5 linked regions of the Homo sapiens genome follow. The protein of the gene in region 3 purifies or fractionates together with the protein of the main gene of each other region. This does not show direct contact. Each region holds a gene or a part of one and is shown on either strand. Other genes may lie near its edges. The genes, in order: EPS8L1, ZFAND5, TOMM34, TARS1 and WDR12.

Region 1 (5,905 bases), on a different chromosome or scaffold from region 3:
GTCTATCTATGGTGAGCGGGGGGCAAGGGAGCCCCAGGCCCATAGAACTGGGTCTAAAGAAACAGGACCTGGCATCCAGGGTCTTGGAGGAGGAGGGGCTGGGGGTCTGGACTCCTGAGTCAGAGGGAAGAGGTGCTGGGGGTCTGGACTCCTGGGTCAGAGGGAAGAGGGGCTGGGGGGCTGGACTCCTAGGTTTGAGGGAGGAGGGGCTGGGGGCCTGGACTCCTGAGTCAGAGGGAAGAGGTGCTGGGGGCCTGGACTCCTGGGTCAGAGGGAAGAGGGGCTGGGGGGCTGGACTCCTGGGTCAGAGGGAAGAGGGGCTGGGGGGCTGGACTCCTGGGTCAGAGGGAAGAGGGGCTGGGGGGCTGGACTCCTGGGTCAGAGGGAAGAGGGGCTGGGGGGCTGGACTCCTGGGTCAGAGGGAAGAGGGGCTGGGGGGCTGGACTCCTGGGTCAGAGGGAAGAGGGGCTGGGGGTCTGGACTCCTGAGTCAGAGGGAAGAGGGGCTGGGGGGCTGGACTCCTGGGTCAGAGGGAAGAGGGGCTGGGGGCCTGGACTCCTGGGTCAGAGGGAAGAGGGGCTGGGGGCCTGGACTCCTGGGTCAGAGGGAAGAGGGGCTGGGGGTCTGGACTCCTGGGTCAGAGGGAGGAGGGGCTGGGGGGCTGGACTCCTGGGTCAGAGGGAAGAGGGGCTGGGGGCCTGGACTCCTGGGTTTGAGGGAGGAGGGGCTGGGGGCCTGGACTCCTGGGTCAGAGGGAAGAGGGGCTGGGGGGCTGGACTCCTAGGTTTGAGGGAGGAGGGGCTGGGGGCCTGGACTCCTGGGTCTGATGGAGGAGGGGCTGGGCCTGGACTCCCAGGCTCATTCTCTTTCTCCCCTGGCAGAGCAGAGGAAGCGTTACTCCACAGTTGTTATGGCTGATGTATCCCAGTACCCAGTCAATGTGAGTCTGGGGTCTGTGTTCCCCCAGGACATCTTCTGGGGCAAAGGTGGCCTCAGGAGATAGGGCTTTTGAAAGCAGCTAGGCCCCCAAGCAGGAAGCATGTGGAAAGTCAGTTTGCCCATCCATAAAATGGACCTCCGTTGCCTCACCTCAGTCATGGATATGAAGCCAGGGGCCTCGGGTCCACTTAATCTGCCAGCCTTTCCTCCAGGCCAGCTGTTGTGCTGGACAGTGGGACCACGGAGGCAAATCAAGACACAGCCCTGCATGAGGAAGGGGTAGACAAGGTCCAGAGGAATCCACAGAGGCGCCTGGTGCTCTAATGGAGGTGGCAGGGGGCATGGCAGGAGACCCGAGGAGGCATTTAGAAGGAGAGAGCTATAATCCAGACTCCTTCCCTGCCCGCAAGGAGCCTCCAGTCTGTGAGAAGCCAGACTCAGGTGCTAGTCACTCTGATGAAAGGGAAACAAAGGGCACTGGGAGGAGGAGCTGATTTGTGGAACAGGTGATCAAGGAAGGCTTCCTGGAGGAGGTGTGGTTAGTCTCAGGCTGAAAGTCTGATTATTCTGGGGGATTCTGAGCCCACCTGGCATCATCTTGGGCCTCACTGCTTTCTCCATGGTCCGTACCAGCACCTGGTGACGTTCTGCCTGGGTGAGGACGATGGCGTGCATACCGTGGAGGATGCCTCCAGGAAGTTGGCCGTCATGGATAGCCAGGGCCGAGTCTGGGCACAGGAGATGCTGCTGCGAGTGTCTCCCGACCATGTCACGCTGCTCGACCCGGCCTCCAAGGTGCCGGGGGGCACGTGGGTGGGAGGAGTGTCTGGGGCAGGGACTTCAGGGGGTCTGGGTGTGAATCTTGGCTCCTGCACGTCCTTCCTCTGGGAACTCTGGCGAGGGACCCCAGCCCCCTTCTTGAGCCTTAATAGCCTCATCTATTAAACAGGGCTGTTATCCCTAACCCCCTAACCGCCTGAGGTTGCCCTGACCTGCTGGCCCACACTCCCGTCGCCATTTAGTAGTACCATCATTTCGGGGCCTCAGTTTACCCCGCCATCCCACCCGGCAGGAGGAGCTGGAGTCGTACCCACTGGGCGCCATCGTGCGCTGTGACGCGGTGATGCCACCCGGCAGGAGCCGCTCGTTGCTGCTGCTCGTGTGCCAGGAACCCGAGCGCGCGCAGCCCGACGTGCACTTCTTCCAGGGCCTGCGCCTCGGGGTGAGCAGATGGGCTGGCTCTGGGGGTGGAGCTGGAACTGGGCGGAGCCTGGAGCCGGGGCGGAAATGGGTGGGGCCTCTAGGTGGGGCGGGGCCTGGGGCTAAGGCGGGATCAGAGCAAGGAAGGGCAGGGGACCTGGGAAGGAAGTTCTGGAAGGCAGTGGGGTTTGAGATTGGACCCAGGGTCAAGATAGAACATGAAGGTGGGATGAGGACATGAACAGAACATGGCCAAGAAGGATCTGGGGGAGCAGCCAGGACGAGGTGGGGGCGAGGAACCACCCGGACTGGGTCTCCATGGGCGGGGTCGTGGCTTAGGGCAGGGACAGGTGTAGGGCGAGGGGTGAGTTCGGGGCGTGGACGTGCGTGGGTTCACAGGTGTGAACGGTAGCCGCACGTGGGCTGGGACTGAGCTGAAAAATCGGCCAGGGGCGAGGCCCGGGTAGGAAGTGGGTGCGGCGTGGGGAGGCGTGGCCTGACGGTGTGATTGGCAGGCGGAGCTGATCCGAGAGGACATCCAGGGGGCTCTGCACAATTACCGCTCGGGCCGCGGGGAGCGCAGGGCGGCGGCGCTCAGGTGAGAGGGAAGAAGTTGGCAGGGTCTCTGGGAAGCCGGTTTCCCCTCCTTGTGCCTCAGTCTACAACACCAGCCTGGAACAGAACAAGAGTTTTGCATGGAGTCAAGCACACCCTAGTCGAGTCTTGTCTGTACCTCCCAGACGAGCTGACCCCTTCTCCAGAACTCTGCTTCTTTTCTCTGTTCCCTGTCCAGGCCCTCAGTTTCACTCTAGAGAGGTGCTATCCCTCCGTATATCGGATTTCTCCCTACCTCGTTGAACTTGTTCACTCCCTTTGAGCCTTTTGAGCCTGTGTGTCTCGTTCTGCGCCCTGGATTTCCCCCTCCCTGGACCCCTCAGTGGACCCAGTCTTGGTGTCCCCGTCGCCCTCCGCAGGGCCACGCAGGAGGAGTTGCAGCGCGACCGCTCGCCCGCCGCTGAGACCCCGCCCCTGCAGCGCCGCCCGTCAGTCCGCGCAGTGATCAGCACCGTAGAGCGGGGCGCGGGCCGCGGACGACCCCAGGCGAAGCCCATTCCCGAGGCAGAGGAGGCGCAGAGGCCTGAGCCGGTGGGGACCTCGAGCAACGCTGACTCGGCCTCCCCGGACCTGGGTCCCCGGGGTCCTGACCTGGCGGTTCTGCAGGCGGAGCGGGAAGTGGTGAGCCGCTAAGGAAGGGGTCTGGGGGCAGGGCCAGGCGACTGGAGGCGGGGCTAGGGCGTGGAAGGGCGGGGCCGGCTGCGGGACGGGCGTTCTCTGGTCAGACTTCTGCGTTATGGAAGAGGGGCTGGGTCGGGGGCGGGGCTTGGTTGTGGGGCGTGGCCAGGTGTTTGGGGCGTGGCCTGATCTGGGGAAGTGTATAGGTGCTCAGGTTCAGGGCTTCGACGGGGATGGTTTTGGAACTCGGGAGCCCTGAGCGTCCCCCTCCTCTGTCCCCTAGGACATCCTGAACCACGTGTTCGACGACGTAGAGAGCTTTGTATCGAGGCTGCAGAAGTCGGCGGAGGCGGCCAGGGTGCTGGAGCACCGGGAACGCGGCCGCAGGAGCCGGCGCCGGGCGGCTGGGGGTAAGGGGCACCCTGGCGTGGGATCTGAACCCCCTCCCGATCTCTTCCAAATGTCCCCGCTCTCCCCAGGCTCTCCCCTCCCGCCACTTGCCAGGGCTGACCTCACCGCCATCTTAACCGGGTGTCCACCTCTCTCTGCCTGCCTGGTGCTGGCCCCGCGTCCCCATCGCCGCGCCCGTCTGCTCCCCTCAGAGGGCTTGCTGACGCTGCGGGCCAAGCCGCCCTCGGAGGCCGAGTACACCGACGTGCTGCAGAAGATCAAGTACGCCTTCAGCCTGCTGGTGAGGACGCGCCCGCCCCTGGGCCGGGGCGCGGGCACGACGAACCTGTCCCGTCCCCGCACCCACGCCAACCACCTCCCTCCCCACGCCCCAGGCCCGGCTGCGCGGCAACATCGCCGACCCCTCCTCTCCGGAGCTGTTGCACTTCCTTTTCGGGCCTCTGCAGATGGTGAGACCCGCCCCAGGCCCTCGGGCCCCCCTGCAGCGGGAGGAATCGGGTTCGACTTGTAGAAGGTGTGGCGGCACAGCCTGCCCCTCCTGCTCCCCTGACAGATTGTGAACACGTCGGGGGGGCCGGAGTTCGCGAGCAGTGTGCGGCGGCCGCATCTGACATCGGATGCCGTGGCGCTGCTGCGGGACAACGTCACTCCACGTGAAAACGAGCTCTGGACCTCGCTGGGGGACTCGTGGACCCGCCCCGGGTGAGGGGCGGGGCTGGGAGGCAGGGGGCATGGTGATTGGAGGAGCATAAGGCGCTGGGAGGTGGGTGGCATGATGATTGGAAAATAGGACTAGGAGAGTAGGGAGGGGTTAGAGGCGTGGCTTAGTTGTGTTGGGGCGGGGCTTAGGACAGATGCCAAGATTCAATTGGAGGAAAGGCCAGGAATTAACGTGAAGGAAAGATTTAAGACCACCAGACCAATCGGATTGAAAGAAAAGGGGGGCTTAAAGGAATAGAGGGGCTAGGGGCTACGGGGCAGGGGCGGGGCTACGCGAAGGGGCGGGGCTTCTGGAAGGTTTGGTCTATAACTTTGGTGATGGGACAGAGTCTGTGCACTGCGGGCTGGCAGTTCCGCAGGGAAAGGGTCAGAACCTGAAACCGACCTTACGGAAAACCTGATTTGGAATCAGGTGAGATTTAGAGGCTGGATAAGGCAATTTTTTTCCAGAGAGAGAGATGGATGGGGTCTCAATATTTTGCCCAGGCTGGTCTGGAACTCCTGGCCTCAAGCGATCCTCCCATCTTGGCCTCCCAAAATGCTGGGATTACAGGCGTGAGCCACCGTGCCCGGTCTAGAAATATAAATTGCTGTTGAGTTGGGCTTAGAGCTACCGGCAGGACTTGGTGAAAAGTGGCGGGGCTAGAATCGTTGGAATACAGCGAGCTTTAGGGGAAAACTTAGTGAAGTTAATGCAGGAACGAAGTTGGGGGCTGTATCAGGATCCCTGAGCTCTTGGCCCTGTCCCTGGCCGCAGGCTGGAGCTGTCCCCGGAGGAGGGACCCCCATACAGACCCGAGTTCTTCAGCGGCTGGGAGCCGCCGGTCACTGACCCGCAGAGCCGCGCCTGGGAGGACCCAGTTGAGAAACAGCTACAGCACGAGCGGAGGCGCCGGCAGGTGACCCAAGCGACACAGCAGGGCCGAGGCTGGGAAGTCCGGGGGCGCGGCCGGTCCGCCTGGCCCCGCCTGACCCGACTGTCTTACTTCCTACAGCAAAGCGCCCCCCAGGTCGCTGTCAATGGGTGAGTGTCCGCCCCAGGGCAGGGCAAGGGGGTCAAGGAGGGGTGCGTCCCGGGGGCTCCCGATGCTGACTCCGCCCCCTTTTTTTCTGTGTTTTTCCTTCTGTCTTCCTGGCTCTTCTCAGGTGGGTGAGATGGTGATGGGGCGGGCCGGGGCTGGGAGAGAGGGAGGAGCAGGGTGGGAGGGGGCGGGACCCAGACTTCTGGGGCTAAGGGAGTTGGGAATGGAGACCCGGATTCCTGGGCCTAAGGGAGGAAGGGGGCTGGGAGTGGGTAAAGTCTGAGAGGTTGGATCCCTGGATCCCCAAAAGGCTGGAAGAAGCCAGTTTGTTTTCCCAGGGCCTGGGAAGCACCATGCCTGGGCTCCCTAGGAGGACAGAG
Region 2 (5,905 bases), on a different chromosome or scaffold from region 3:
AACGAATGTATTTTATTCCTTATTTTTAGGATTTTTTTTAAAGAGTAGGCTTTCAGAACTCAGTTGGTGAAAATACTGCAATTTTATCTTTGAAGTTTTTTGTTAAAATGTTTCCCCACACCCCCCTAAAAAATTAAGGATTCTTTGTAGTTGTCTCCTGTTTTCTATCTCCCAGGCCCTGAAAAGGAGCCTTTAAAAGTCAATTCTACTCCATTTGGCAAAGAGGGAACTGAAATCTGGAAAGTAAGGACTTGCCCAAGGTCACTGACTTAGTGGCAGACTAGAGACTTGAACTCAGGTCTCCATTCCCAGGTGAGTGGGAATTCATGCCATCTCATCACATCATGTGCACCTGAAAGAACTGTATTCCATAGGTGTAAAAGCTCTTTGTTCAGAATTGGAATTGGAGAATTGTTCAGTTACACTCGGGTGTTTTTTTAAGCTGTAAGTTAGAGGAAGCCATAAACTTTATAAAATCTGCATTCTAGCTATACCTGATAGAGCTGACACGTGCATGCTCAAGTTGCTAATTACTTTAAAGGCAATAAATAGTAATGGTATTTTTTTCTAAAATACAAGGGGAATGCAATACCTAATGGGAACACACATCCCCCACTTCATCCCCTAAATCCTCACTAAATGAGGATTCTTTTTTACACTGTCTCCACTGTGCTTAGTTTTTTATCAACAACCTTGACCATTTTAGCTTTGACTATGCTTTCATCTTCTAGATTGAGATTGTTCTGTAGTTTTTCCTACATTAGGAAAAAACTAGCAGCCCTTTTTTTGTTTTCTTATGTTAGATATATGAACGCTGCATCCTTAGTTCTTGGGGTTGTGTAGGAGTTGGCAGGCTTTGAGATATAAATAGAAGCTGATTTCAGAGGCCCCTGTTGACTAGGCTTTATGTGAGAGCCTCCATCCAGCTCAGCTTGTCACATTGCAGCCTTGTGACAGGCTGAAGCGCCCTCCCATGTGATCTGAGCTTCTGAGAAATATTAAAGCAAGCTGTGCACATGTGATGGCATTTAAAAGCTGGCTTTCTAGGGGAAAAAAATCTAAAAGATGGGAACCCATGTAGAAGACTCATGTCCTGGTACCTCTTGTGTGTCTCGCAGTTGAAAGTTATTTATAATGAAATGAAGGTAGACATGTTCTCTGAAGCAAAGTTGGAATACTTTGTTATCTCTGAGTGTGTGAAATCTTTAGATGGAGTATCCTCCATTTTATCTAAAACAAATATTTTAAGAATCAGATTAACTAAAATTACTTAGGTAGGTTGATCGCTTGGCCTTAAACTTTAAAGCCAATGTCACATGAGACTGGGCCTCAGTGTAGAAAATGTAAGCTAGCATACTTAAACTGGTTTTAAGGAGTGACCCAACTTTCATGCATAGGGCAAACATTCACACATATTTTGTGCGTGGTGGGCATGCAAATACATACATATTTATCATTTGAAAGCATTTTTTGCTCCTATTATGCTCATTTAAAAACCCAGCTGAAAGTGTTTATTAATAAACTTCCTAAGTGATGTTGAAATGTTTACACTACCCTGCTCCAAAATGAGTCAGCTAAATTCCAGTTAATATTTAAAGAGACAGTGTCAACTAAATTAATACTGTTGTTAAAAGTAAGTTGTGGATCTTGGTCACTCCACACAAGCTAGATTGTCTTAATATTTGTATGGTGCACTTTTACTTACAAAAGGGAAGATAAAATGTTTTGGGGAATAATTACCAGGGGTCTGGCCAGGTCAAAATTGGTTAGTCCCCTTCTCCCATCTTCTAATTTTGGTAGTTAATACTTGTTAAAACATCGTTTTTTAATAACTCACTAAAAAGTGTATTCTAGTATGTAGTTGGAAAAAATGACTGACCACAAGTTACAGCACACGAATTTTCCTTTAAGCAAATGCTCTCAAATATGCTTTTTGTACATATGCTTATACATGTTTAAGATGACATGAAAACCCTCCACAACTTTATTTTAAAATAATTTTTCTTTAATATGTATTTTCTCATCCAGAGGAAAACTTATTAATAATTTAGCACAGCGTTTTAACAAGACTTTTAGAAAAGCAAATCTTCCTTGGAAACAAATGCTTGCTATGTAAAGCTTTTTCTGGTAACCCAGCATTGAATATTAACCATTACTAAAGGTTATGTGTATATATTGACTTTAATACATTGAATTTGAGCTTGGAACGGTTTTATTATTTTCTGGTATGAGGAAGACAAGCACTTGTTAAAATTAATAGTGCCTTTGGCTGAGAAATCTGGTTCATAATTTGTGTATTGCAGGTTCCTAGGCACTGGCTTTGACATACTCTGAAACTTCAAATGGAGAACGTAAAAGGAGTTTCGTAAACCAGCTGACCCTAAATTCTTAGAGATTTACTTGTTGGTGCCAGGGTAGCAGGAAGGGCTACCAGTTCTCTTTTCAGCCTTATATGAAGATGTTTCAGCATTAAAAAGTACAGATGCTCTGCCTCAGCAGATTTGTCAAATTACTGATGAAGCCCAGATATGTACAGGTGTTTTAAGAAAACTTTATTCATCCAGTTTAAAGAACTACCTATAAATATCAAGACTCAGTGATAATTGTGATTAGCCAATTAAGTAAAAACATTTGAAATGGTCTGCCTGTAGTGCAGCAGAGTGAAAAGTTAAAGATACCAGTTTCCCAAATTGATTAAAACATAACCCTGAGAGCTAACAGACCTTTTCATAAATTGAAACCAAGAATAGTGATAGGTAAAAATACCCTAATAATTGATAAAATTTCTTTTTGGGTTTTTTTTTGGTCCTAAAACAGTTTGCTTTTATAAAGGCAACAAAATATTGATAATTATCTCTGCCCACCCTTTTTAATGATTAACGGAATTTGGGCTTTTGTTAAAACTTGCGTAGCAATTACAACGGTATACCGATGATTATATTAGACTATATTTTGGTGATAACACTAATTTCTGAAATTTCGTTTCATCTATAGCAGAAAAATATGGCTCAGGAGACTAACCAGACCCCGGGGCCCATGCTGTGTAGCACAGGATGTGGCTTTTATGGAAATCCTAGGACAAATGGAATGTGTTCAGTTTGCTACAAAGAACATCTTCAGAGGCAGCAAAATAGTGGCAGAATGAGCCCAATGGGTAAGTTATTTCCAAGGAAAAACACATTTGAAAGAACTGGTGGACAGAAATACAGAACCAAGAATTGGGGCTGAGAATGCTGAAAGCACATGGAGAGAACACCTGATAAGAGCTTGAAATTCAAGCAACAGCCCAAGTGCTTGACATGACTGATCAGGAATGAATGACTATCTACAAGCATCTTATAGCTTTTCAGTTTTCTTTTTTGGGGTTATTTTGTTTCACACTTGTGTTCATTGGATTGACTTTTTAATATTTTTTGTTTGGATACTCAAGTATAGGATTACAGCACAGTGAATGCTTATATCACTAACCTAATTAAATGCAAGTATTTATTACTACGTCTTGATACTAAGTGAGTTTTTGTAGTGTTCATTGGTTCCTTACAAATCCTTTTTTTAAATAGGAACAGCTAGTGGTTCCAACAGTCCTACCTCAGATTCTGCATCTGTACAGAGAGCAGACACTAGCTTAAACAACTGTGAAGGTGCTGCTGGCAGCACATCTGAAAAATCAAGGTAAGATTGAACGTTTCAGAGTTTTTATGATATTACAAAGAAGAAATCAAGATGTCTGTACTGGTCCAATAATAAGTTAATAGATACCCTTGGCTTTGCAATCGAGGATTTCAGTGTCTTTTAATACATGACTCTTAAGTCATTGAGTAAAGATGTGTGTTACTTACACCTGACTCCCTAACCCCCTCAAGGATACTGTGTTGGAAATGCTGTGCTTTTTTATTTCTTTGTAATTGAGGTTTAGGGATTGTCGAGTGAGACTGTAGAATATTATTGGGCCAGACAAGGTGTTTTGGCAGAGCTGCCCTTTTGCCCTTAAACAAGTTACAGGCACAGCTAAAAATCCCTAGCTGGTTGTAAAATATGGTAACCTATACAAAATGCAGCCTCGAGTTCATGAGCCATTTATCAAACTTTTTTCTCAACCATTTGTGCTGGGCATCCAATTTTTTTTTAAACTTTAGATTATCTAGCTCCATTTGCTCATTTTGGAAATATTCTATAATTTAAAGTTGAACTGACAACTTATTCATTGTCTCAAGAAGTACCCTTAACACCTTTAAAAATTGTTTGCTTGAACTCAAATAGAAATGTGCCTGTGGCTGCCTTGCCTGTAACTCAGCAAATGACAGAAATGAGCATTTCAAGAGAGGACAAAATAACTACCCCGAAAACAGAGGTGTCAGAGCCAGGTATGTTTTTCATTTAATACTTGTTCAGTTCTGAATTTGATAGTGCAAGAAATGGCTGGTGGGGGGATTCTTTCCTTCCCATTGAAGGACCAAAGAGGAGGGAGAGCCATAAAATATAGGCCAAGCAAAGAACTACTATCTTTAAAAGTATCTTGAGTATGAGTATCTTGAAGTGTAAAATAGTCATATTTATTCTCAGTTTCTTCTCTGCTCATCCCCTGCACTACCCTTGTGCATAATGGGCAAAGTCTGTAATCTGGAGATTGGATGTGTTAAAAACTTGATGAAGTTAAATTTCAAGGGTATAAGGAATAATTTTATAACCAAAAGCAGTAACTTTAGTTTTGATATTGTCAATGTTGTGGAAAACTTTTAAGTAGAACAACATATTTGAACACTAGAACTTATTTGAAGTACAATATTCCTATCATATTTTGTGGGAGTTTGAAACTCAGTGTGGAAAGGCATTTTGGTTTTCATGAGATATGGTGACTTTGGAAACTTTGCTTATATAGCACAACCAGAAGTGCCCTGATGGTGGAAGAAGACTGACTTGAATTACCTGTACTAGGCCCTAGAACAAAAAGATTTCTGTGCTTTATATAGTGCACGTAGCTTATTTTATCAATTTGTTCTTTTTTGGCAGAGTGCTGATTAAATGCAATATAAAACTTCTGTTGTGAAAAAATACTGTCAGTGGTTATACAGTCTGCTTTGGAGGCTGGCTTTTGCTAACAGCAGTCAAGTTTGTTTATTGTATTAATCTTACAAAGTTAAGGCCAAATTCTCAAGTTTGGCAGGTGAATCTATATTTGGCATTTTGAAATGAGCTCCATCCTTAAACTGACCACATTAGTTTGCCCGTGATGCCTTTGTTTGGGTTTTTGTTTTTGGTTTTGGTTTTTAAATACAAAATTACTCTGACCTTGGAAGAATAGTCTTGGGTTAGAGCTAGTCTGCATTTATTATTACTTAGTAGGCATTCTGTGATTCACTGCTATTTGCCTTTTCTGTGTCATTTTCTTATTCCCCCTTCTTCCCTTGTCTCAGGAGCCGTAGTTCATTTTTCAGATGTGGCCAAAGAAATGGCTGACACCCTCCCTCTACCCCATACAACTATTCCCCTAGATTATTCTTTATCCTCATGACATCAGGATAAACATTAATGTTGTCACAGTAGCAGTAGGTAGAATATTGTTCGTTTAGTCTAATATTAGGCTATTTCTCCCAGTAGATTCATTGCTAATGCAATTGAATTATAAATTTGGGCAGAGTTTTAGAGAAAATTGCCATTAAATCAATCAGCTTGTTGTAGGAGCTTGTCTATATGCTAATAGCATTGGTGCTGGCATATTTGGGCAGTAATTTCAGCATTGCATACATAAATTTGCTATTGTTACATTTGGATTAATATTAAAACCTGAGTTTATAGTGTTTCAGGTGTAGTTGAATTATATGTAAGTAGATATAAATTTTGTTATTTTTGTGTTAAAGAACTAGTGGCAGTGTGGGCTTTAGTACAGTAATGTATTTTTTGTTCA
Region 3 (5,905 bases):
ATCTCCCACTATCCATTTTCTTTAGAGTAGTCCTGCAAAAATTGGCATTGTTTAGCTGAGTTATAAAAATAATCTTAGGAACAAAGTATAAAACAAAATACAAGTCTTCACCTCTTAGAGACTGTTTTCTCAGCTGTATAGTGAGGGTGATGATAAAGTCTTCCTCACAACCATGAGGACTGAATGACATAAGACATGTAAAACTCCCAGCCTGGCACATAGGCATGCAGTGTGAGTTCCCTTCTCTTTCCTCTGGTAGCACTTGGGATGTAGTACTTAGGATGTTTTTGGTTGCAAAAACAGAAAGCTCAACATGGTAAACATAGTATAGGGAATTTATTGGCTCATAAAACTGAAAAATCCGAGAGAATTCAGGCAAGGTTTGCTCCAGCAGCTCAGTATATTAACAGACTAACTCCATTTTTCTGTACTTATCACAGCTTTATTTTCTGTTGTGCGTCAGCTTTGTCTTTGGCAAGCTTCCCTCCTAGTAGCAAAATAGCTATAGCAGTTCCCGGCCTCACATCCATACCCCATGCCTCATGACCCAGAGAAAGAAAGTCTTTCTCTGATAGCTCACTAGGAAAAGATAGGATTTTTTTCCCCCAAAAAACTCTAGCTCACATATTTTCTCAATCATTTTCTCAATCTATTCTGGTCTTCATGGTCACAGGCCATTCCCTGAAGTACACACCATAACCGGCGGATGAGATTTTGTGATTAGGTCACCCTGAGGCACCTGCCCCACCTCCAGAACTAGAGGGTGATGCTTCCCAGGAGCATGTACACTGTGTGAATCCCTGGAGAAGCATGAAGAAGAGAAAGGAGATCCAAGCAGCCAAAAACAGGAGATTCCTCACCTCAACTGTATGAAATGAAGAGGCCATTTGTCAGGCACTAGGAAGCTCTTTTAATGCTCCAGGGGAATGGTCCCAGCCCAGCAAGCTAGGGATTCAGGCTAGAGGTGCAGAAGGGATCAGAGATGGAGCCCTGCCATGTGTAAGTGACCTATAGGTGTTAGGGGAGGACAAGAGTTACTCACCTTCTACAGGAGAATGCCTCTCTGGTCATGGGTAGCATTCACTCTGGTTTGTGGGAGCCTGGTAAGTGTTCCCCACTCTTCTCTAGGATGAAAATGTGCGGTGCTAATGAACCTGATGGCATCAGTGCCATTGATTTCATTCTTTCAATCAGTGCACCTACCATTGATTTCATTCTTTAAATCAGTGCACCTACCATTGATTTCATTCTTTCAGGGTCACTGAGCCATGTGTTCCAAGCCATGTGTATGCTAAGCAGTGTGACACAGAGGACAGTCTTGGCCCTCAGGGAACTCTCCCTCAGTTGAGGGACTGAGACATGTAAACAGTGTCTTAAAACACAAGGAGGAGGAACATGTGCTTTAGAGTCTTAGTGTTTGAGGACTTCAGGATAGAAACTGACTTAAGTGCATGAGGGAGTCGGGGAAAGACTCAGAAGGGGTGGCAATGGAGGTGGAGCCTTGAGCTGGACCTTGAAGAAGGTCATCAGGTGGGAAGGAAGGAGAATCCTTGGCAGAGACAGTGGAGAGAGTTGGAGAATGAAAGTGCATGGGGGGAACAGTAGGAATAAGGATGACTGCAGAGTGGTGTGTTGCAGGGTGCCAGTGAAGCTGAAGCCCTACTTCAAGAGAAACCTGTGTGCATGTGCACAGGGAGATGTACCCACAAATGTTCGTAGAAGACTGTAATAGCAAAAAACAACTGGAGATAACCCAGATCTCCATAAATGGGAGAATGGACAATTCAGCTTTGGTATTGCAGCAATGAAAATGAAGGAGCTGCAGGTCTGTGCATCAACACAGATGAATCTCAGAAATATAACATTAAGGGGAAAAAGAAAAACCAAGTCATAAAAGAATACACAGACTTATTCTTCTGTATGAAGTTCAAAAACAAAGTAAACAGCAAATGATCTGTGGGTACTGTTGTATATAGTTATACTGTTTAAAAAGGTGGGGAAGAAGCACAGAATTGGGGATAATAGTTTCCTCCAGCAGTGGATTGAATTGAGGAAGGTCCCCCAGGACTTCAAAGGTCCTAGTTATGTTCTTTTTCTTAAACCAGGCAATGAATTCAGGGTGTAAACCTATAATCTTACCCTGGTCATAAATATTTAGTATTTTATAAAGATAGTTTTAAAAATTTTTGAAAAGCAGATGATATGGAGCTGAGGCTGGAATAATTAATTGGGGCCAAGCAGTGAAGGGCCTGAACACCAAGTTGAGCAGCTTGGATTTCACCATGTTCCCTCTGCTTCCTCTCCTTGAAGGCTGGAGCAGAGCTGCATGTGTTAGATGAGGGAGGATACTCACAGGCTCAGCCCAAACCAGAAATGAGGAATAGCAGGCTCTTCTCCCCTTTTCTCATAGCCCAGAAGCTATACCTTTTCTTTACCAGATATTTGTTTATTAGTATTTATTTACTTATTGTCCTGCTTTAAGTTTATAGTGTGTTCCGTACTTTCTTACATACTCTCAGATTTGACCCTGAAAATAGCCATCTGTGGAATTAGTATTGCCCTATTTTATTGGTGAGGAAATTGAGGTCCAAAAGTTAGGTAGGTCACACAAGATCTTCCAGCTACCAAGAGGCAGTGCCAAGGCTAGAACCTGGGTTGCTTTTTATCATTTATATATTTTTATGTGCATGCAAAAATGTTTTTATATCAGGATTCCCCAACTTCTTGATGAAAAACTGTTGAATTGCCCAGAAGCTATTAATTGGGGGAAGTCATTAATCAGGAAGGATGATTTACAGCAGGGGAGGAAATCTCTGGGAGAGAGGATTGTAGTCAGTTTGGAAGGGACGATGCTGAAGAGACCTCACTGATCTCAGTTGGGTGCTGCTCCATGGTTTTTTTCCTCTTCTGAATTTGTATCTAGTGCCTTCTGCTGGGGATGTGGAGAAAGCCAGAGTTCTGAAGGAAGAAGGCAATGAGCTTGTAAAGAAGGGAAACCATAAGAAAGCTATTGAGAAGTACAGTGAAAGCCTCTTGTGTAGTAACCTGGAATCTGCCACGTACAGCAACAGGTATCTCCTATACAGCTGCTGGCCTGGGGCATTTCAGGACATTTGTTCCATAGTCTTCTCTTGGACTGCAATGGGCCCTTCATCCCTAGCATTTAGTCAAGTATGTTATGGCTGAAAACATGCATCCACGTTGTGAGCTAGCCATGACCAGTGGCATTCATTCTCTCAAAAGGGTAGAAACTGAGGGATGCCAAATGGTAGCCTGGGCTTTGTTGGCCCCTGTCCCCAGAATTTTCATAAGCATGCAATGTAACTAAAAGCAGTGTGCCTGCTCTGCAAACACAACCCTAACACAAGTCTCTTAGCCTGTCCACCCCACCACGCTACGCTGCTCCCTACCCTTCTCCAAGACCCTCCTGTTAGAAATTCTGGCACCATTTCTGTCTGAGAGTACTGGCCCAGAAGCCAAAATGTGAAGTAACCATTGCCTGGCATGAGAGCAGGAAGGATGGGTACAGTCTAGCCTGAAAGGTTAGACTTGTGGGCCTGTAGAAAGTCCTGCACCAGGAGCTGCCGTCAGTGACCACTGACTGAGAACCTGGGAGCCAGGGTGCGGTCCCTTCACTGTGTAGGAGTGATTGTTCTCCAACAATGCTCGTATAGGTGGTCTTTCTGTTTTAGTGTTTAGAAAATTGAGGCTCAGAGAAGGAAGGGTTTTGCTTTAAACTCAGCCAGCCAGTAAATGTTGGCACAAGAATTGGAATCTGACTTCAACAAGATCTTCCTGTTACTTTTACTCTCAGAAGCTTGAAACATTCAGCAAGAGACCATATCAAAACCAAATGCTTAGTATAAAACATTATAAAATGTTAGAAATCTGTTTATCCTTCCCTACCAGCATACACATATCACTCTCTAGTTCAAAAATCTTGGATCTAATATAGACACATTGTTCCTTATTCCAAACTCTTGAGATAAAATGTGTTTTCCAGCCACGGTGGCTCAATGCCTGTAATCCCAACACTTTGGGAGGCTGAGGCTCCGGGAGGATCACTTGAGGTCAGGAGTTTGAGACCAGCCTGGCCAACACGGCAAAACCCCATCTCTACTAAAAATACAAAAAATCAGCTGGGCGCTGTGGCACATGCCTGTGATCTCAGCTACTCAGGAGGCTGAGGCAGGAGAATCACTTGAACCCAGGAGGCAGAGGTTACAGTGAGCCAAGATTGTGCCACTGCACTCCAGCCTGGGTGACAGAGCGAGACTCTGTCACAAAAAAAAAAGAAGTGTTTTCCATTTTAGTGAGGTAATATGGTCTGAATTATGTAACACCCCAGCAGTGTCTGGGGCAGCTTGCAGAAGTTAATTATTAGTATTTCTGCCAGTGAAACTTGAAAATTCCATGTTCACATGGGGTGGAATAGAGAAACTAAATAGCTTCATGTCAGTTCAGATCAGGTTTTGCTGCCCAATGAGTTGGAAAGAGAACTTGTAGTTTTAAAGCTTATATTTTGGAATTTTGCACCTGTGGTTTTATGTGGTTTTATTGCTGATTGGACCAGAGGGGCCACAATTTGCCAGGCTAATTTGAAAAAGAAGCCTGCAGCCTATTTGTTCCATATTTGTGTGGCATCTTCTAACTCCTCTATCTCTGGACCCTCTTTCACATTGCTTACCTTATGCTGCTGGACACCTCCATTAACTCATTTTTCTGGATCATTACCATATTTGGAGCTGTGTTTTGTCTTGTTTAGATACTGTTCTTCATGCAGGTGTCTGTGCCACACTGTTTTAATTGCTTTTGCTTTATAATATCTTATAGGGCTGGTCTTTTCTTCATTCTTCTTAATCAGAGCATTCCTAGTATTTTCCCATGTTTGTTCTTCTAGCTAAAGCTTCGGATCATTTTGGCAAATTCCAAAAAATGTCTTGTTGGACAGCTTTTGGTTGTGATTGCATTGGATTTATAATTTAATCTAGAGGACTAATGACAAAACAACTTTCAGCCATTGTGGCTAACATTTTATCATGTCCTGGAACGTCTTGGACATAGTCTAATGCTCCACCTCATGTACGCCCATCTGAATGACACAATGCCCAGGCTTTGGCTTACTTTGGCTCCCTTTGTGCAGGTGACATCTGAGTGCATAGCACCTACAACTTGCCAGCCCTGAAACAGCTGTCATAAGAATCTCACTTGTACTCACAACAGTTCTTCAGCTTAGATCATTGTCCTGTGTTACCTAATCAGGCTCAGAAAGATGAATTAGTGACCACAAAGTTAAACAACTAGTACATGGTGGCTGAGATTTAAGCCAGATCTTTGTGACTCCAAAGCTTATTTCCCTTTCACTCACTTGTGTTATTTCCCAACCCCTTTGTAATTAAAACCCTTCTGACTGGATACAGTTACTTCATTTACCAAAAGTCAAGGGGGTTTATTTTATTGCCTGAAGTTATGCATTTTGTTCATCTTAAATATAGTCTTTAGAAGTCTCACATGACCCTATTAATCACATTTCTATTCTGAAGTCACGATACACGGTGGTTCCTCTGCTTCCCAGACACTTGGCTATTTCTTTAAATTGCCAAGCCCATTGGGAGGAAACTTTAATTTCCTTAGAATTCCTCTATGTTTAGAGGTGGCTCATGCCTGTAATCCCAGCACTTTGGGAGGCTGAGGTGGGCAGATTGCTTGAGGTTAGGAGTTTGAGACCAGGCTGGCCAACATGGTGAAACCCCATCTCTACCAAAAAATACAAAAGTTAGCTGGGCATGGTGGCATGCACCTGTAATCCCAGCTACTCGGGAGGCTGAAGTAGGAGAATCGCTTGAACCCAGGAGGCGGAGGTTGCAGTGAGCTGTTATCATGCCACTGCACTCCAGCCTGGGTG
Region 4 (5,905 bases), on a different chromosome or scaffold from region 3:
ATGGAAAAATGCATATGTTCCCTAATTTCTTTTTTATACTTTCAATACAAACATACGTGCTGTTCCATCACAGCTTGAGAAATGACCTGGAAATAAGACAAAGAGTATAATTAGAAGACTCTTCTGAACAGAGAATTTTAAGTGGGACATGTGATTATTTATGTTTAACGATTGGTCTGGAAAAAAGAGTGTACAGTGAACTGTCCAAGACCTTGGTCTTCCCCTCCAAGGGCAACTTGCAGGTTTTATTCATCTCTGCAATCACAGAGACTGACACAGAGGGTATCTGCTGAATGAATGTTGAAGAGATTTTGACACGAAATTCTAATTGGGACATTGCAAGTGGCTATGATGATAAACTGCAGTTAAGATACAGAGGGTGGTGCAGGTGGGTAGGATTATAATGATGCTTTAGAGTGGATGGAACTGGGTACTGTGCATTAGTCTGAGGGGTTCAGATTATGGTTGTAGAATGACAGGCTCTGTCTGAGCTTTTAGTTAATTCATGGGTTCTTCACCATTGAAGGTTATGGACCGTTGTGATAATTTGATGAAAAGCTCTCAACAACTGAACGACTAAAGAAAGGGAGGGACTGCTGTGGGTGGGAATTACAAAGATATTAGGGCCTGATACGGTGGTAGGAACCAATCACTTGAGACTGAGTGGGAGAATCACTGGAGCCCAGGAGTTTGGGGCCAAAATGCGCTGTGACTGTGCCTGTGAATAGTCACTGCGCTCCAGCCAGCCTAGGCAACATAGTGAAACCCTGTCGTTAAAGAATGGAAAGAAGGAGGGAGGGAAGGAATTACTGGGCAGACAATTAATCTTTTTCATTTGATATTATTTTCTATTATCTCCAGTCAATTTTGTTTTGTTTTGTTTTGTTTGAGACAAGGTCTCACTCTGTTGCCCAGGTTGGAGTGCAGTGGCCCAATCTTGGCTCACTGCAACCTCCACCTCCCAGGTTCAAGCAATTCTTATGCCTCAGCCCCACAAGTAGCTGGGACTACAGGTGTGCGCCACCACACCTGGCTAATTTTTGTATTTTTAGTAGAGATAGGATTTTGCCATGTTGGCCAGGGTGGTATCGAACTCCTGGCCTCAAGTGATCCATCTGCCTTGGCCTCCCTAAGTGCTGGGATTACAGGAATGAACCACCATGCCCTGCCCCAGTCAGTTTCTTAAGGATTAGATATTCCCTTGTACTCCTTTCAAATTGTGGTATGTTGATATATATGGAGACATATGTATGGAGACGTTGGTAGCATTATCAACATTGAATAAATGTTAAAATCTGTATTGCAGTAAGTCATTTTATATCTGATAGATTGAAATTCATTTGAAGATAGAAAGTCATGGCAAAATTAAGCAATCTCCTCTTCACTTTTGTATGAAGTGTTAATGTTCATGTAATTTGAAGATGATGAATGCTGTAGATGTTAGTTTGACTGTTTTGTTACCACAGATTCACTGCCTTTTTGAAATGTTCCATAGATTATAGAGTGACAGTAGAAGAAGTCAGCTCTCTGATTGCTGTCTCTTTTTCTTTCTTTGCCAAACCTCTAGAAACCTAAGTGGGTGTTTTATATAGAATATTTTTGTTAATTTTATCTGCTATAGAAAGTAGTAGTGTGTTGTTTTATATAGTTGCTAATTACATACTCCAAGCTGATCATGGCATCTTTGAATTCAGTAAATACTTTCCTTGAAGGGGAGACCTTAAGTCAAAGAAATTTGTGATTGGTTGTGAGTGGACATATAGGCTGACCCGCTGCACAGACCATCACCTGGACATGAATGAAACAAAATAGAAAAGCCAGTTTATTGTTTTTATTTCCAGTATTGTTTATAGCTCTATTTGTAAAATAATTTAGTTAGAAAAGATCCTAAGAAGACATCTTAAAAGAGAAAAGACCACTTGCTGTAAATAGTAGCAAAATGGTAATTGTCGATTCAGCATAAGAATAGGGCATTTAATTCCTTCTTTTACCTTCATTTAGAACCAAATTGAGGTAATGCCGGGTGATTTTGGCAGTGTTTATTTACCACATTGAATCAATAGTCCTGGGTTTCTGTATTGTTTTTATTATTTCTTTCCCATTTCTAAATAGGAAAGCAATATTTACTGATCATTTATTTCCTGATTTGTTTGTTGTCTTGCAGTTGAATCCTTGGCCTGAATATATTTACACACGTCTTGAGATGTATAATATACTAAAAGCAGAACATGATTCCATTCTGGCAGAAAAGGCAGAAAAAGATAGCAAGCCAATTAAAGTCACTTTGCCTGATGGTAAACAGGTTGATGCGGAATCTTGGAAAACTACACCATATCAAATTGCCTGTGGAATTAGGTATAAGCTACACCCATCATGACCTTCCATAGTTTGTGGTCTAACTAAACTTCCTTTTATTATCTTGCCATGTTTTATTCTTATAATATTTTTATGTTACCATTCAGTGTTTTTAATCTGTTTAATTTTGCCTACTTGAGATTTTTTAAAAATCAAAATGATACAGAGCTTTGTAGTCAAAATTCAAAGTTAATTTCTGAAAGAGTTTACTTTGGTCTTATCTTTTGGGGCATTGTATATTTTTAGTCTTACTATGATTATAAATGTTACAAAACCGACTAGACAGTGTTTACCTATTTCGACTTAAATGTCTTGGTTTTGAAGTTAAAAATGAAGCTACATAATCTCACATGGAAAGGTTAAGAAACTTCATATAACACATGAAAAAAATGTACTATTTTTATAAATTCAATGAAAGACTATTCCTAGTCTTAAAACTTTTATTGGGGTGGGAAGAAGTTATTTCAATTAACTGAGAATTAGATGCATATTTTGTAATAGGGGAGAGGCTTTCTTAATCTGATATGATTGGGATCAATAATTGGTCAGTTTATCAAAATAAGAGTTGGTAAAACATATATATGTGTATATATATACGCGTATATATACACGTGTATATATATATATCTTAAACTGGGTATTGGGAAACTCTAGTCATAATCTGTTTGTGTATGTCCTGAAAGCGAAAAATAAAAATGATTCTTTTTTTCTTTCTTTTTTTTTTTTTTTTTTTTTTTTTGAGACAGAGTCTTGCTCTGTTGCCCAGGAGGCTAGAGTGCAGTGGCGCGATCTTGGCTCACTGCAAGCTCCACCTCCCAGGTTCACGCCATTCTCCTGCCTCAGCCTCCCGAGTAGCTGGGACTACAGGTGCCCGCCACCACGCCCGGCTAATTTTTTGTATTTTTAGTAGAGACGGGGTTTCACCGTGCTAGCCAGGATGGTCTCGATCTCCTGACCTTGTGATCCGTCCGCCTCGGCCTCCCAAAGTGCTGGGATTACAGGCGTGACCCACCGCGCCCAGCCAAAAATGATTCTTAAATTTTTAAATAGTTGGAAAAAATAAAACAACTAAGAATATACAACAGAGACCATGTTTGGCCTGCAAAGTGTAAAATATTTGTGTGGCCTTTTACAGAAAAAGCTTGCCAATCTTGGTCTTAAACACTTCAACTTAAAATATGTGAATATGTATGTATTCACTAACTTTATATACATACATAAAACAGTGAATATATATATGTATGGCAAGGTTTGGGGGATAGCGAGTGCTAATTAGAGTTCTTACATTATCTTAACACATACGAGAAGTAGTCTGAGCACAGAATCCTTGCAGATTTTCATGTAGTTGTAGAGTTACACCTAACTTGACAGTGTTTTTGTGTGTGTGACTTGGATTTATCAAGCCTTCTCAAACATTCAACTTGGTTTTCATAGAATCCATAATTCCCTTATTGTGTTATTTTATAATTATATATTTTTGAAGTTTATTTATAAGTGTTATGTATTGAATTGAACCATTTGGAATCACCATATGAATTGTCATGTGGTTGATTATCATCAATTTTGTATTGTTGAACCAAACACGTAAAAGAACAAGCACAAAAACAGTTTGGGGAACCAACGTGGCTGATTCTTGGTAAGCGTATTATACAACTAGTAGAAGCAGAACCAGTTAGGCCTATGAGCCATGAGCATCTACTGTACCACAGACATTAGTTAGTACTTTTTACAAAGTGAATGGAGTGTTTCCATTCATTTGACAAGTGCTTCTACCTACAAGTTCTTCTACCTTACTCCAAAGGAAGTAAAAAGTTGTAATACCATGCAAGTTTCTATGTGAGAGCATAGAGAACTGGATAGACCTTTACGTATCAGTTCAACCTTTCATTTTAGAGATAATTTTGAAGGTCAGGTTGATTAATAGATTCCTCTGTTGTCACACAATGAGATTGTAGCCGTGTCATTAAAATTTAGGCTTCTGTTAGTTTGGGAACTTTTTCCTCTACCTTCTACAATGTTGATCTAGATTACATTGTAATTTATCAAGTCTTCAGTTGAAAAATATTCTTCAAGAACTATAAAATTCTAAGTTGAATTACATAGCTGGGCGTGTTGGCTCACAGCTGTAATCCCAGCACTTTGAGAGGCCAAGGCAGGCAGATCACCTGAGGTCAGGAGTTCAAGACCAGCCTGGCCAACATGGCGAAACCCTGTCTCTACTAAAAATACAAAAATTAGCCAGTCATGGTGGCGCACACCTGTAGTCCCAACTACTTGGAGGCTGAGGTGGGAGGATAGCTTGAACTCGGGAGGTGGAGGTTGCAGTGAGCCAAGATTGAGCCACTGCACTCCAGCCTTGGTGACAGAGCGAGAGTCCGTCTCCAGGGAAAAAAATAAAAGGTTGAATTACATAAAACATTGATGGGCTTTAGCTCTGGAGTTAAGTCACTGATCTGCACTGAGAATACTTTATGAAATTTTTACAAAAGTCCAGAATAACTTTTTGTTCTGTGAAAAATTATAACATTGATAACAGGCTATTTAAAGATTCACATAATTAGTGGTGAATATGAAAGGGAAGGACAAAAAAGACATGTTCCATTTGCGTCAAAAGGTTTTTCTTTGAAGTTTTGTTATAAATCTTTTTTTTTTTTTTTTGAGACGGAGGAGTCTCGCTCTGTCGCCCAGGCTGGAGTGCATTGGCGCCATCTTGGCTCACTGCAAGCTCCGCTTCCTGGGTTGACGCCATTCTCCTGCCTCGGCCTCCTGAGTAGCTGGGATTACAGGCGCCCGCCACCACGCCTGCCTAATTTTTGTATTTTTAGTAGAGACGGGGTTTCACTGTGTTAGCCAGGATGGTCTTGATCTCCTGACCTCGTGATCCACCCGCCTCGGCCTCCCAAAGTGCTGGGATTACAGGCGTGAGCCACTGCGCCTGGCCGTTTTGTTACAAATCTTAAAGATTATTTTACCCTTCTTTGAAAAATTGAAATGATCCAGTATGGCCCATGTGTAATCTACATTTTCAGAGTAACTCTATTCTTAGAATCTTGGGGCTCCATATTGGATCATAAGATAAAAGTCATGTTCTTCCCAAAGAATATAGAGAATATGATTATCCTTTTTATCAGTTCTTTAATCTCCTGAAAACTGTTTTACACCAATATGATGAAATACATTTCTCTCTGCCAAATTCATGTTATGTTTTGTGAAATGCATGTATTTATTTTATTGACTCCATCTGATCTCAGGAGGAAAGAAAACATTGTTTATAACCTATGGTAAAGTTAGTAGGAGCATTGAAAATAGAAAGGAGTTTGTTGTTTACTTTCTGTTTGGTTCTTTTCTCTTGATCCTCAGATAGGAGTTGTATACATTTTGTTGTAAACCCTTAGACATAGAGAGCCACCAACACAGCAAGCCTGGCTAGCTTAAAGCCTTCTAGTGGTAGGTTTCTTTGAGATTTACAGTGTAAAGGGTGTATACTTTTTCTTCACAGTGTAGAATGTTGCCTACCTTCGTTGAGATGTCCAGGCTGTTATAGACTATT
Region 5 (5,905 bases), on a different chromosome or scaffold from region 3:
CACATTCCTCTGCCTCCTTTTATCCTAGCCATGCTGGCAGCTGATTAGATGGTACCTACCCAGATAGAGGGTAGGTCTGCCTCTTCCATTCCACTGTCTCAAATGTTCATCTCGTTTGGCATCACCTTCACAGACACACCCAGGAACAATACTTTGCATCCTTCAATCCAATCAAGTTGACACTCAGTGTTAACCATCACAGTGTATTACATTGATTTGTGTATGTTGAACTATTCTTGCATCCCTGGGATAAATCTTACTTGGTCATGATGATCTTCTTAATGTGTTGTTGAATTTGGTTTGCAAGTATTTTGTTGAGGAAAGAATTATTCCTGTAAGAGAAGCTTTGCAATTCCAGTATGTTACCCAAATAGTTGGGTAACATTTTTCTAAACATATAGACCGAACATTATTCCTTCTGTATAGACTGTTACCATATTGCAACTCTGAAAGAAATGAATGTAAGTACAGTATTGGTTCTCAATAGCTGTTAATCCCGATAATTAGGTAAAAGACTGACAAGGAGCATTATGGTGGATAGAATCAGACTGATATAATCCAAGCCCTATGATGGGTCTTAATATCTTAAAAAGAGACACAACCAGAACCTATTTACATCCTGATGGGATGTAACAGGAAATAGACAATACTGCCTGTGAATATTCTTGTCAAAAAAAACCCAAAAAACCCTGAAATCTAACCAGGCATTTACCATTTACCTCTGACTAGTTTATAGGATATTTGTGTGATAAAGAAGCATGTTAAAGGACACCTTGGAGATGGAGTCAACAAAACCCAGAATGTTACAAAACAGATGACCCACTTTCATCAACAAATACATGGCAAGGAGAAAAAGGAGGAGGAACTGTTAAAGATTAAAAGAAACATTAATCAAATATAATGTATGGATTATGGATGCTGATTTTTGAAAGCTCACTGTAAAAGAACATTGACTATTTGATGTTAGAAGGAGTGATTGTTAAATTTTAAAATATTGTGACAAATTTTTGAAGTCCTTATATTTTAGAGATACATACTAAAGTATTTACAGATGAAATGATATAATTTCTGAGATTTGCTTTAAAATAAACCAGCCGGGGAATGGAGGGTGGAATATAGATGATGTCCCATTAGTTGGTGGATGTCAAAATGGGCAATAGTGATGAGATTCATTGTTATTTCTACTTTTGTGTATGTTTGAAATAATAAAAGTTTTCTAAACCAAAATAATTACACCAACAACAGTAAAAAGACATTATACTAACAGAACAAAGTATTTCTGATCTTAAAAATCACAGAGAAACTCAGGCCACACTGGGATAATAGGTACCTGTTTGTTTTGGGAGTTCTCATATACCTCTGCCAATATTACTTTAGACACTAAGAGTGATAATTTTGTTATGTATTTTCCTCAGAGTTCCACAAACATGTGGAGTTTGATTTCCTTATTAAGGGCCAGTTTCTGCGAATGCCCTTGGACAAACACATGGAAATGGAGAACATCTCATCAGTAAGTTCAAATTCTTATCTTCTGTATTTCACTTGAGGCATTATCGGCTATTGTAGGTAAACTCCTTTTAGAATCACACTGAATCTATCTTTAGTAGCAAAGATTCTTTTTAATATATTGGCTATATATGTTGTGTGTGTTATGTATTGTGTGTATATTTTATGTGTGTATTGAATATATATAGTGTGTGTGTATATATATATGTATATTCCTGTATATTCAATTTTGAAGCCCTCTTTTTTTGTGAGAGTGTTTTATTCAAGAAATAAATGAACACATTCTTTATATTTGTGGAAGAACTGGCAAGAAAGGGAATAGCAAATATGTGTGTACAAATACTGGTGCACAAAATAACTGGGCAAATATAAAAACTATGGGTTAAGTTACTGTTATTTTTCCCTTTTATTTTCAAAGTTTCCTTATATTGCTTTTATGATTAAAAATATAACTTATAATTGTTGCTTGTTTTGTGATTTTAAAAATTGTGGTAAAATATACATAACATAAAATTTAGAATTTTAACCATTTTTAAGTATACAATTCAGTGGCATTAAGTGCCTTTGCAGTATTATGCAACCATCACCATTTTCCAGAATTGTTTCCTTATCCTAAACAGAAGACCTGTACCCATTAAACAATGTGCTTTTTTTCTTAATTTTAATGTTTTCTTTTATCTTCTTTTTTTTTTTTTTTTCTGAGACAGAGTCTCCATCTGTTGCCCAGGCTGGAGTGCAATGGCACAGTCTTGGCTCACTGAAACCTCTACCTCCTGGGTACAAATGATTCTTGCGCCTCAGCCTCCAAAGTAGTGGGATTGCAGGCATCTGCCACCACGCCTGGCTAATTTTTGTATCTTCAGTAGAGACAGAGTTTCACCATGTTGGCCAGGCACATCTTGAACTCCTGATCTTAGGTGATCCACCCGTCTCGGCCTCCCAAAGTGCTGGGGTTATGGGTGTGAGCCACTGCACCTGGCCTAAGGCTTTCTTATATTCCTTTCCCCCCCATTTGCAGCATAAGTTGTACAAGGCGATTAATATTTCTTCTTTTTAAAATTTTTGTTAGGAGACAGGGTCTTGCTTTGTTGCCTGGGCTGGACTTGAACTCCTAGGCTGAAGCAGTCCTCCTGCCCCAGCTTTCCTAATGTTAATAGCTGGGACTACAGGTGTGAGTCACCATGCCAAGCTATTATTTCCTAATATCACTCTTAGCTTACAGTTAGGTCAAATAAAGTTCTTGACTTTTTGAATGGCTCCAAATTTGCTGAGTTATAAAGGGGACTAATATGAAGGATATAAAGGAGATATATTAAATTGGGGGTTATCTTCATAATGTAATATTTTAAAACTAGACCACCTGACTTGTTGCTGGTTTCTCTTGTGATTAGGAAGAAGTTGTGGAAATAGAATACGTGGAGAAGTATACTGCACCCCAGCCAGAGCAATGCATGTTCCATGATGACTGGATCAGTTCAATTAAAGGGGCAGAGGAATGGTATTGCCAGATTAATGCCCTTCTCTTTTTTTTGTTTTGTTTTTACCTCCTTCAGTCTTTTTAAATCCATATATACATATTTTTCTGTGATTTAATGTTATTTGTAAATTAATTTTGTGATCTCTGTATCAGTGGCCATGGCAAACAGAAAGATCTTTTCATTCAGTGTCTTCAAGAAGAAACAGGTGGCTGGGTGCAGTGGCTCATGCCTGTAATCCCAGCACTTTGGGAGGCCGAGGAGGGTGGATTACGAGGTTGGGAGATCGAGACCATCCTGGCTAACATGGTGAAACCCTGTCTCTACTAAAAAAGTACAAAAAATTAGCCGGGCGTGGTGGTGGGCGCCTGTAGTCCCCGCTACTTGGGAGGCTGAGGCAGGAGAATGGCGTGAACCTGGGAGGTGGAGCTTGCAGTGAGCTGAGATGGCCCCACTGCACTCAAGCCTGGGCAACAGAATGAGACTCTGTCTCAAAAAAAAAAAAAAAAAAAAAAAAAAAACCACAGGTATTTATTAATAGGTACTCTTTTTCTGTTCTGTTCAATATGTGGTAGTAACAATTATTGTTGCCTTTTTTTTTTTTTTTTTAAACGGGGTCTCTCTCTCTTGCCCAGGCTGGTCGCAAACTCCTGGGCTCAAGCAGTCCTCCTGCCTCAGCCTCCTGAATAGGTGGGATTTCTCTACACCCAGCAATATTTGTCTTCTGAATAAGTCATGTATCTTAGAGCATTTAATTTATTTGGTTCGATTATGTTGCTTTTAAGACCAAGGATATAGTTTGTTTCATAAAGGAAAAAAGTAACTTTTATAGCCATAGATCTCCTGGCCTAATACCTTAAAGATGCATAGCATACTATTTTAGGGCTAGAAGGAGCAGACTGGACTCAGCAAAGAAGGTACAGATATCTTAGGGCAAATCCTCACTGGCCTTACTTGTAGGAAAACAACTCAAGAGTAGATTATGGTAGGAGCTTCTTTCAAAGAATGCCTTCTTGGAGTTATTACATAAAGTTATATTTCTCCTAGTTTTACTTTTAGTTTAAATGGTTTTCACTGGTTAAGTACAAAATACTTCAGGTGGACAGCCAGGCGCGTGGCTCACGCCTGTAATCACAGCACTTTGGGAGCCTAAGGCAGGTGGATCACTTGAGATCAGAAGTTTGAGACCAGCCTGGCCAAAATATTGAAACCTGTCTCTACCAAAAATATAAAAAATTAGCCAGGTATGGCGGTCTGTGCCCATAGTCCCAGTTACTCGGGAGGCTGAGGCAGGAGAATCACTTGAACCCAGGAGGCAGAGGTTGCAGTGAGCTGAGATCGCGCCACTGCCTTCCAGCCTGGGCAACAGAGCAAGACTCCATCTCAAAAAGAAAAAAGAGTACTACAGGTTGGGTATTCCTTATCTGGAAATGTTTGGTACCAGAAGTATTTTGGATGTAGGATTTTTTTTGGGTGGGGGTGGTTTTGGAATATTAACATATACATAGTGAAATATTTTAGGGATGTGATCCAAGTCTAAACATGAAATTCATTTATGTTTCATATACAGCTTATACACCTAGCCTGAAAGTAATTTTATACTATGTATATATATGATATATATTTTTTATATATATATATATATTTTTTTTTTTTTTTTTTTTTGAAACGGAGTCTCGCTCTGTCACCCAGGCTGGTGTGCAGTGGCGCAATCTCGGCTCACTGCAAGCTCTGCCTCCTGGGTTCACGCCATTCTCCTGCCCCAGCCTCCTGAGTAGCTGAGACTACAGGCACCCGCCACCATGCCTGGCTAATTTTTTGTATTTTTAGTAGAGACAGGGTTTCACTGTGTTAGCCAGAATGGTCTCGATCTCCTGACCTCGTGATCCGCCTGCCTCAGCCTCCCAAAGTGCTGGGATTACAGGCGTGAGCCACCACGCCCAGCCATGCCAGGTATTATTTTTAGGAGGTTGAGAAACGTCAAGTGATCTGATCTAGTATGGCTTGAAATCTCAATCTTCATATCAAAAAAGAGTTTAAAAGTATAATCCTCAAAGTTACTTTGTCATTGCCAAAGAAACATTTCAGGGTTTGGAAAAACTGCTTTTTGTGTTTCATAAGATTTTTTTTTCTCATAGGATCTTGACTGGTTCTTATGATAAGACTTCTCGGATCTGGTCCTTGGAAGGAAAGTCAATAATGACAATTGTGGGACATACGGATGTTGTAAAAGATGTGGCCTGGGTGAAAAAAGGTTAGGACAGTTTGCCTACACTTAGAGGAATCCTAGATAGGGATTTGGAAATAAGCCATTTTTGGTGCTGGGGAAGAATGGGGAGTGGGTGGGAAGTATCTCATACCTCAGTTATTATGAGGTCTTTCAAAAAATACAGTGTTCAAGAAGAAAAAGATTATATAAAAAATTCATAAATTGTTAGAAGTGTATCTTTATTAAAATTACATCAGATAATATACATTTTCAAGTTAATATTGAATGTATTACATTCATCTTTTATTTTCTTCTGTTTTTGTTTGTTTGTTTTGTTTTGTTTTGTTTTGTTTTGTTTTTGAGATAGTCTCGCTGTGTCACCCAGGCTAGCGTGCAGTGGCATGATCTCGGCTCACTGCAACATCCACTTCCCAGGTTCAAGCGATTCTCCTGCCTCAGCCTCTCGAGTAGCTGGGACTACAGGCACCTACCATCACGCCTGGCTAATTTTTGTATTTTTAGTAGAGACGGGGTTTCACCATCTTGGCCAGGCTGATCTCGAACTCCTGACATCATGATCCACCCGCCTTGGCCTCCCAAAGTGCTGGGATTACAGGCGTGAGCCACTGCACCCAGCCTGTTTGTTTGTTTTTTGAGGCAGAGTCTCACTCTGTCGCCCAGGCTAGAGTGTAGTGGCTCCATCTCAACTCACTGC

Evidence for each region.
Region 1: the proteins of TOMM34 (region 3) and EPS8L1 fractionate together in Homo sapiens (co-fractionation; one large-scale study listed by BioGRID). This does not show direct contact.
Region 2: the proteins of TOMM34 (region 3) and ZFAND5 fractionate together in Homo sapiens (co-fractionation; one large-scale study listed by BioGRID). This does not show direct contact.
Region 4: the proteins of TOMM34 (region 3) and TARS1 fractionate together in Homo sapiens (co-fractionation; one large-scale study listed by BioGRID). This does not show direct contact.
Region 5: the proteins of TOMM34 (region 3) and WDR12 fractionate together in Homo sapiens (co-fractionation; one large-scale study listed by BioGRID). This does not show direct contact.

Annotation. Positions count from the first base shown.
Region 1 is NC_000019.10:55,078,118-55,084,022, forward strand, and holds part of EPS8L1 (epidermal growth factor receptor kinase substrate 8-like protein 1), read left to right. Parts: coding exon 1-11; intron 12-881; coding exon 882-940; intron 941-1,572; coding exon 1,573-1,734; intron 1,735-2,011; coding exon 2,012-2,161; intron 2,162-2,263; exon of another isoform or gene 2,264-2,376; coding exon of another isoform or gene 2,377-2,424; intron 2,425-2,654; coding exon 2,655-2,737; intron 2,738-3,113; coding exon 3,114-3,375; intron 3,376-3,655; coding exon 3,656-3,782; intron 3,783-3,974; coding exon 3,975-4,063; intron 4,064-4,157; coding exon 4,158-4,232; intron 4,233-4,336; coding exon 4,337-4,485; intron 4,486-5,260; coding exon 5,261-5,402; coding exon of another isoform or gene 5,403-5,498; coding exon 5,499-5,527; intron 5,528-5,649; coding exon of another isoform or gene 5,650-5,665; exon of another isoform or gene 5,666-5,905. UniProt on the Homo sapiens protein: Stimulates guanine exchange activity of SOS1. May play a role in membrane ruffling and remodeling of the actin cytoskeleton.
Region 2 is NC_000009.12:72,357,877-72,363,781, reverse strand, and holds part of ZFAND5 (AN1-type zinc finger protein 5), read left to right. Parts: exon of another isoform or gene 1-175; 5' UTR 176-312; intron 313-2,994; 5' UTR 2,995-3,003; coding exon 3,004-3,154; intron 3,155-3,560; coding exon 3,561-3,672; intron 3,673-4,260; coding exon 4,261-4,364; intron 4,365-5,905. UniProt on the Homo sapiens protein: Involved in protein degradation via the ubiquitin-proteasome system. May act by anchoring ubiquitinated proteins to the proteasome. Plays a role in ubiquitin-mediated protein degradation during muscle atrophy.
Region 3 is NC_000020.11:44,945,896-44,951,800, reverse strand, and holds part of TOMM34 (mitochondrial import receptor subunit TOM34), read left to right. Parts: intron 1-2,923; coding exon 2,924-3,071; intron 3,072-5,905. UniProt on the Homo sapiens protein: Plays a role in the import of cytosolically synthesized preproteins into mitochondria. Binds the mature portion of precursor proteins. Interacts with cellular components, and possesses weak ATPase activity.
Region 4 is NC_000005.10:33,446,377-33,452,281, forward strand, and holds part of TARS1 (threonine--tRNA ligase 1, cytoplasmic), read left to right. Parts: intron 1-267; exon of another isoform or gene 268-388; intron 389-2,164; coding exon 2,165-2,355; intron 2,356-5,905. UniProt on the Homo sapiens protein: Catalyzes the attachment of threonine to tRNA(Thr) in a two-step reaction: threonine is first activated by ATP to form Thr-AMP and then transferred to the acceptor end of tRNA(Thr).
Region 5 is NC_000002.12:202,896,630-202,902,534, reverse strand, and holds part of WDR12 (ribosome biogenesis protein WDR12), read left to right. Parts: intron 1-1,415; coding exon 1,416-1,510; intron 1,511-2,897; coding exon 2,898-3,004; intron 3,005-5,119; coding exon 5,120-5,235; intron 5,236-5,905.